3 separate regions of the Homo sapiens genome follow, and regions 1 and 2 are each linked to region 3. The links come from fine-mapping of genetic effects on gene expression. A gene starts in region 3. Each other region holds a variant in brackets. All regions are shown on one strand. Distances are from middle to middle. Region 1 overlaps NCF4-AS1 (NCF4 antisense RNA 1). Region 2 overlaps NCF4-AS1 (NCF4 antisense RNA 1). Region 3 holds the start of PVALB (parvalbumin).

Region 1 (2,758 bases), 36 kb before region 3:
AGCTTTATCAAGGTGCAATTCACACACAGTAAAACTTACCAACTGAAAGTATACAATTCCATGGGTTTGGACAGTTGTGTAACCAGCACCACAATCATTATATAGGACATTTCCATTATCTCAAAAGATCCCTCAGGACACTTTGCAGCCAATCTCCTTCCCCTACCCCCAGGCCCTGGCAATGACTGATCCACTTTCTATCACAGTATTTTGCCATTTCTGAAATTTCGGACAAAACCACAGAGTATGTGATCTTTTGTGCCTGTTTTTTTTCACATAGTATAACGCTTTTGAAATTCATGAGTGTTGATATGTACATCGGTATTCATTCTTTTTATTGTCAAGTAGTATTTTATTGTATGGATATAACATAAGTTGTTTTCCATGCACAAGTTCATAAACATTAGGGTTTTTTTTTTGTTTTCCAGTTTGGGGCTGTTAAAACAAAGGGGCTACAAACATCAAGCATAAATGTTTGAGTGAGCATGTGCCTTCATTTCTCTTGGGTAAATATCTAAGAGAGAGTTGCTGGGTCATATGGTAGATGCATATTTAACTTTATAGGAAAACTGTTTTCCAGGTCGGGTGTGGTGGCTCACGCCTGTAATCCCAGCACTTTGGGAGGCCGAGGTGGGTGAATCACCTGAGGTCAGGAGTTCGAGACCAGCCTGGCCAACATGGTGAAGCCCCATCTCTATTAAAAATACAAAAATTAGCCACGCATGGTGGTGGGCACCTGTAATCCCAATTACTCGGGAGGCTGAGGCAGGAGAATCCCTTGAACCCAGGAGAGATTTCAGCAAGCTGAGATCGCGTCACTGCACCCCACCCTGGGCGACAGAGCGAGACTCGGTCTAAAAACAAACAAACAAACAAACAAACAAACAAACAAACAAACAAAAAGAAGGAAACTGTTTTCCAAAGTGGTTGAATCATTTTGCATTCCCCCTGACCCATGTATCAGAAGACAGAGGCTCCAGAGTACCCGGTGTGCACTGGCTCAGAGGCAGTGGCCCCAGGTCTGCACAGACTGGGGGTCTAAATGAGTCATAGCCTTGGGGCTGGTTATTAAATGATTTTCTCCCAGCTCCAAACCTTTCTTCTACCCTCTGCTTTGTGGTGCCCGAGCTGGGACTCAAAACCCTGTTTGTTCTGCTTTGCTGGCTGATTTCCGCTGCCCTTGGCCAGGAGGGGGCGCTGGAGGGAGGCCGGAAGGATGGGAGAGGAAGGAGGGGCTTGCTTCTTTCTCTTTGCAGGCGGGACCCAACTGCCCTGCCCTGGAAGCCATGTTGGCCCAGCAGCAGTTGATTCTAGGTTTTAGTTTTTTTCACATTCCCAGAGCCAGTCTCACCCCACCCCCTCCTCAGAGGTCTGCAGTTCTGAGTCCCAGCTCCTCCCCGCAGGTCTAAGTCTCCTCCTCCAAGCTTCCAGGCTAGCGTAACCCCGCTCTCTTCCTTCCGTTCCCACAGCCGCAGGGG[T/C]GATGGCTGCTTCCTGAAGTTTCTATCTCTGGTGACCTCGGTGTCTCCTTCTGCCTTTTCAGTCTAACAGAATCTGTTCAAGCAGTCTCCTTTATAGAATTCTCACTTTAAAAATTATTCATTTGCTTTCTGTGTCACCAAACCTAGCCAGCCTAGCAGGCTGCAAGGCCCAGCTCCCAGCCCCAGGGTGTCCCAAGGGAAGCAAGGCAATAAGGCAGAAAGAGCTCTCACTCTTTGGCTATGAACTCTCAGACATCTCCCTCAAGCACTCCGAGCTTCAGGTTATTTATCTGCAAAATGCATCCAAATAGAGCCTAATATAAATGAGGGCTTAATAAATATTTGAGGGAGGAAGTGGAAGAAGGAGGTATTTTATATCCGTTATTGATACCTACTTCATTTGAGCATGTTACAAATTTTTTTCTAATACTCTGCAGGGAATGCCAAATCCTTCCCCTGTGCACTCTGTCTTTATTCTTCTTGATAAGGTGTAGCAGAGACTGCTAATATCCCCTACGATCCACTCTGTCCTTTCTCCTTTAGTGATAAAGTCCCTGAGTTGTGGCTGGACTCATGGCCACCCAGCTAAAGAGAACATTTCCCAGCCTACCTTGCAGCTCCCTGTGGCCATGTGACCAGTTGCTGGCCAATAGAATGGGAGGGGAGGCCATGGACATGCTATCAGGCTGTGTCGTGAAAGACAGAAGGTGTATCTTCCATTTCCCATCTCCCCTTCCAGCTGGCTGGAGAGGCCAGCTATGGAGAACAGTTAAGCAACAAAACAGCTTGGATCTCTGACCCTGCTTCTGTTCAGATTTTTCAGGGAGAAAGAAATTTCTATTGTGTTTTAGCAGCTGATTCTTTGATGCTTGTTACAGCAGCTGAACCTGTACCCTACCCAGTACACTGGAGCAGGGATTGGCAAATGCTTTCTTTTCATTTTCTTTCTTTCATTTTTTTTTTTTAAGTTGGAGTCTCGCTCTGTCACCTAGGCTGGAGTGCAGTGGTGCAATCTCAGCTCACTGCAACCTCTGCCTCCCGGATTCAAGCCATTCTCATACCTCAGCCTCCTGAGTAGCTAGGATTACAGACATCTGCCACCACGCCCCGCTAATTTTTGTATTTTTAGTGGAGATGAGGTTTCAACATGTTGGCAGGCTGGTCTCAAACTTCTGGCCTCAAGTGATCCACCTGCTTCAGCCTCCTAAAGTGCTGGGATTGCAGGTGTGAGCTACTGCACCCAGCTGAAAAATAATTTCTAAAAAACGCCAGATAGTAAA
Region 2 (2,758 bases), 42 kb before region 3:
TGTCTTGTGACCTTGAGGAGTCACTTATCCTCTGGCCCATCAAGCCCCACCTTTATTCTCTTACTGCCAAGCCTTTGCCCAAACTCTTCCCCAGGCCTAGAATGCTGGCCTCCATTTTCCTGTGATCTCTTAGGCCCAGAGTAAATGCCACCTCCTCCAGGAAGCCCTCCTGGTTCCTCTGGCCTCTGTCTTCCTAGAGTGTGAAGTTTGGTTTGCGCGCCCTGGCACTCTGGGATATCCTTTCCTCATCCTTAGATCTCCATGCCCAGCCAATCCTCTTTCACAGGGCTGCCAATCAGAGTGAGTTTCACCCTCCCTGCTTAAACTCTCCTGCCCCATCACCCTGTGCTCAGGATAAAGTCCAGAGTCCTTGCCCTGCCTGCCTCCAATGCCCCTGAGGCCCTGCAGCCTTCCCCAGCCTCTGCTCCTGAGCTCCCTTTTTCTCACTGGCCTCCTTTCCGTTTCTAGAATGTTCTAAGACGTCCGCCCCAAGGCCTATGCTCATGGTGTTCCCTCTGCTGGAAAAAGCTCTTCACTGCCTCCTTTGCATCTCAGCTTAGAAGCTACATCTTTAGCGAGGCCTTCCCTGACCACACACCCTAAATTAAGGCCCTCCCTACTACATTCTCTCACAGGTCCCTGCACGTCTACTGCAGAGCACTCATAACTATTGTCATCTCACATTTGTTTGTTTATCTGTATGTTTAATGACTGCCTCCTTGGCTAGCAGCGTGCCTGGCACATTGCAAGTGCTCAACCAATATTCAGTGAATGAATGAAACGCTGCCAGTCAGTGACTGCAGCTCCTAACAGGTATGGGTATTTGATTCTGAAGGGACTTCTCTGAGAAGAGGTCCACAGGAGTCATTGGCACAGCCACACCCAGTAACTCCCTGCCAGCTACACACGCTCACACACTCGTATTCATACATGCAGAGCAGAAAGTTGTTTTAAACTACTTTAAACATACAAGTCCCAGCTAAAAAAAACAAGAAAGCATAATTTTTAGGTAGGATCAAAGAGAGGGGTCAGGAATCTATACCAGGGGGAGAGGAACGTGGCCAACAGCCCATGGGAAAACCAAGATTGGATATGCATTGTTGGGCTGAGATTTTAATGCCAAATCTGGGACTAGGTACAGGCCACAGGTCCTGCTGTTAGCAGAAAGTCAAATCTGAGTTCTCAGTGTAAAGTGGGTGTCAGAACTGATTATGGGAACAGAGTTTCTCAGCCATCAGCCTAGAGTCACGGCAGGAGCTGAGGTCCTCTCACAGTCCATGGGTGGAACAAGGGACGTGTGTACCAGATCAGCCTCAAGCCTGCCCTCTGCACTGGTGTAAGGCCCCGATATAAGCTACCCACGTGGTGCAGAAATCCTAAGCTGAGGCATTATATAAAAACAGCTTGGAGTCAGTGACTCTGCAGGGCCTACTCTGTCAACTCACAGACCAAAACTACAAATCGTGAGCTGTGAAAGACAGCTCAGAGCCTCCACATCATGAAGAATTCACACCCAAAGAACTAGAAATAATACAAACAATAAGTCTGATGAGTTGCTGGTGTCTCGGGGCTCCCAGGCTAGAGGATGAAATGAAACACAGA[G/AAGAG]CAGGGTTATTAGTGCAGGTGTCTGTAAGTACCAACAGGTGCAAGCACACAGCCATAACTGAGGGAAGAGGAGGACATTGGCCTACAGTTGGTCAGGAAGGACAGGAAGTGGCAAAACAATTTTAGCAAGCAAGCATGATACAGAATTTGTAGGTGATTGTGTAAACTGTGTGTGTAGTATATGCCTATAGTTGGAAACACATATTTGTGTATAAACACATACAGCTCGCATAGGCAAGTGTAAGTGCATTTGTGTTGTGTCTATAAAAGACCATATAATGTGTATAGTGGTGGCATTGTGGCTGTGAGAGAATGTGTTTAGATGTTTAGGTTGCAGTCGGTGACAAATGAGTATAAACACAAGTACATTTATAATAGGTGAACTCAGGCAAGATAACATGTCCTTTTTGAACCTTTCTTCTTCACCAATCTGTGAAACAGTCTTGCCTAATGGAGTTGTAGTAGGAATTAATAGAAAACTGTATAAAAGTGCCTAGACACATGGACATTTCTTATTCCTTTTTTAATCGTTTTCAGTGTGTATATCTGTATGTGTGTGTTTCAGGTGGGTTAAGCCCTCAAGTTTACCTTCCCAGGTATTTTCATGGCTTGCCCTCCAAACCCCGGCCCCCCCAACCCCCCAAGAAACCTCCTGTGGCCCTGACTCAGCCACTGGGAAGCCACCTCTGCACCTGGGGGACAAAGATGTCCAGGGAAGAGCCCGCGACGGGCCAGCTCTTCCCCTCCTCCCCTCTTTCTCTCCTTTTCTTCTGTCCCTGCCCGTGGTTCTGCTGAATACAGGTATTTCTCTGTCTCCTCATACACAGAACGCTGCTGCCAATTTTATGCCCGAGCTCTGATACAGTGTAATTTGAGGCCAGGCACTCTGTCAGCAATGGGCTCCTGTCCTGCCGCTGCAGCAATGCCTGTACCTTCTACTCCCACTCCAGAACCGGGCTCTTGCTGCTCCTGCTGCAGGGGGAGAATGAGGCAGAGGGATGACCTGGAAGAGGAGCCAAGCTCTTCACACGTTCCATTAAACAAGTATGGATGGAATCTTTTTTGGATAAGTGCAAAGAAATGCCTGAAGTGACCTCTCACTTATGGAGACCTGATTTTTGATAACCTCCACATCCCACAGCCTGTGAATAAACCA
Region 3 (2,758 bases):
GTAGCAGCAGGGTCCAGGGCAGCTGAGGGGTCCTGGGAAGTCCTGGAGCTGAGAGGCATCAGGTCAGGAGCTGCATCCTTGGTGCCTTGGAAGCCATCTGGCGGGCTGTGGCTTGAAGGAGCTGACTCACAGGGAGGGGGCAGCTGGAGCCAGCAGAGGTATCCTAAGGTTTCCAGGAAGGGCAGCCATCCAGGGCTGAGCTGCAGGAGACAATGTTGACAGCGATGTCAGGGAACTTGAGTTACTGGGCAGCTGGACAGCTGCTCTCCCTGGTCCCCACCACCCAGGGCCACCACAGCCCAAGGCCCTGCCTACCTGCCAATACCTTAAGTTGCAGTCCCCAGGTCCCACTACATGGGACCACTGACGTCATCAACACATCAGAAGGAGACAGAAGCCCAGAGAAGGTCACAACCCAAGGTCACACTGGGACTTAGTGCAGCCCAGGATCTAGAACCCAGGCCTCCTGACTCCCTGTCCAGCGCTCACACACTCTAGAAGCAGCTGGTTGCAGCTTGAAACCTTGGGAACCATGGGGAAGAACACAACGGGTCTCTGGCTGCATACAGATAGGCACCGTGACATTTTTCCAGAGGTGAAGTTCAGACCCCTACACCTGCTTAGGTTGTCTAGAAAGTGTGGTCTGAAGGTGCTACCCTTCTTCCAAACACATATGGGGCTTTCTGGGAGGGAGCATAGCAATTCCAAGCGGACTCTCCCACCCTACTCTGCCCAAAAAAGGTTTATAGGAGTAGGGGGAGTCTGGACCCATGATGCCAGGACCCAGGAGACCAGGAAAGCAAGTAGTTAGTAGAGATCTGAGAAGTGTTCTTCGAAAAATCAAGCCAGCAAAAAAATAAAAAATAAAAGTAAAACATCAAATCAGGTTTTAGAATATGCATCCCTGGCCAGATGTGGGATGGGGCACCCGAAGTGGGCCCCAGCAGCTCCTGCCTGTCCCTGTCCCTGTCCCTGCCACCTCCTCCCTGCGTCGGGTGGGTCAGGTTTCAGGACCTCAGCGCTCAGATTTTGCAGCATAAATTTGCATCCAGGACAGACCAGAGCAGAGGCTGAGGTAGGAGTGGAGAGAGAAAGGGAGCAGGGCCTAGGAGGTCCTGAGGTGCAGGCTGGCCGCTGAAGGTTCAGGATCTTCCCCCACGCGGCAGGACATCCGCCAAGGTTCCCAGATCTGAGACGGCGCACCTCCTGCGTGTCCTTGACGGCAGGTGGACTTTCCAGACCCAGCTGGTGACGCCAGTGCCCCCTAAATCCCAGAGGTGGCCCCTTCCCTCGTGCCCTGGCCGCAGCCCCTGGGATCCCGCGGACCCCTGGCCTGGCGGTGCAGGAGTGGTAGCAGGTCCGCGCGCCTTCTTGCCGGCGGCCGGCGCTGCTCAGCGGCGCGGCTGGACTGAGCCGCTCCCGCTGCGCTCAGAGTCCGGGCCCCTGGCGCCATGCCAGGCCCGGCGGGCGTGCGCCCGGCGCGCAGCACTGCAGCGCTGGTCATATGAGCAGAAATGATGAGAAAAGCACTTTTTAATCTTTTCGCACTTGCTCTGCCCGCTCAAACAGTTGCAGGATGTCGATGACAGACTTGCTGAACGCTGAGGACATCAAGAAGGCGGTGGGAGCCTTTAGCGGTGAGCAAGCGCGCTCCCCTCCCCATCCCTCTCCCCTCGTCCACCGCCCGCGCCCCTGCACTCCGCCGGCCCCGCAGCCGGCGGATCCTCCCCAGCGCGCTTCTGCCCACACTTCCCGCTGGGCGCCGGCGAGGTCGGGGCGGGGGCGTCCTTGGCAGTTCCCAAACTCTGTCCGGGCGAGGCTTGGCGCGGGGAGCGGGCGGGGAAGAGGGCGCCCCGCCTAAGTTACAGAAACTTGAGGGTGCTGAAGGCCCGGTGGCTGGGAGGACTCAGGGTCCGGGACCAAGGGCGAAGACCAGGGTCGGAGGAGAGACCTCCAGGGTCCTTGTACGAGCTCTCTGGACGTCCTCTTTAAGGCACTTAGAGGGGACTGCAGGGGGCATCCTCCTCTCCAAGAGACCCCTTTCCTGGACCCTCATTCTGGACAGGACTTTTCCCGCCAGGCGGTAGCCTTTGTTGGCCCCCTGACTGTCCTAGTTCCTTTACTGAGATTCAGCAACGGACCTGCGGGCGAGGTGACCTTCTGGAGCCGGCGCACAGCTCTGCCTAAGCCCGCACGGGGCATCCTCAGTGCCTCAAACCTCCAGCCTCCTTAGGCGGGCAGGGGAGGGGAACTGGCAGTCTCACCTCTCCCAGCTGCCCGGGACTTCAGCGCTAAGCTGCCCGCCTTCCTCCTCCCCTGTCCTCCAGATGGGGAAATCAGGGAACTGTCTTGGAGAGGACAAGACATTTGCCCAAGGTCACCTAGCTGGGCAGAAGGGGTATTAGAACTGGGTTGCCCAGCCTAGTGTCGGAGGTGGACAGGGCAACTTTCCTTGTCTCTAGCCCTGTGCTGAGGGGAAGAGAACATGACTTCAACAGCCATTCCCTACACACACACACACACACACACACACACAAAATACATGATCTAACATTGTACCCTTCCCCAGGTGTTCTAAAACAGGACCCCAAGATACAGAAAATTGCAGGTAGAAAAGGACCCCCATTTCCTTTCTGCTTTGCACCCCCTCCCCTGGGCACAAGAACCTCTCTGGGAAGCCACCCTCCCAGGGTCCTGGGATAACCCTCTCCCTTCACCTCAAGCCCATGTGGGAAGAAACTTAACTGGGTGTTTCTCG

Evidence for each region. PIP is the estimated chance that this variant, and not a neighbour inherited with it, causes the effect.
Region 1: its variant is fine-mapped to the expression of PVALB in whole blood (INTERVAL, PIP above 0.99).
Region 2: its variant is fine-mapped to the expression of PVALB in whole blood (INTERVAL, PIP above 0.99).

The regions. Positions count from the first base shown.
Region 1 is chr22:36,852,128-36,854,885 of GRCh38, reverse strand. The region is part of intron 1 of NCF4-AS1 (NCF4 antisense RNA 1); the gene reads left to right. Among named protein-coding and RNA genes, the nearest start is that of NCF4, 7.5 kb to the left of the region's middle. The variant T/C (reference allele first, on the strand shown) is at 1,479.
Region 2 is chr22:36,858,038-36,860,795 of GRCh38, reverse strand. The region is part of intron 1 of NCF4-AS1 (NCF4 antisense RNA 1); the gene reads left to right. Among named protein-coding and RNA genes, the nearest start is that of NCF4, 1.6 kb to the left of the region's middle. The variant G/AAGAG (reference allele first, on the strand shown) is at 1,603.
Region 3 is chr22:36,815,824-36,818,581 of GRCh38, reverse strand. PVALB (parvalbumin) reads left to right here and starts at 1,547. Exons shown (of 4, transcript NM_001315532.2): 1 at 1,547-1,637. The coding sequence starts at 1,577.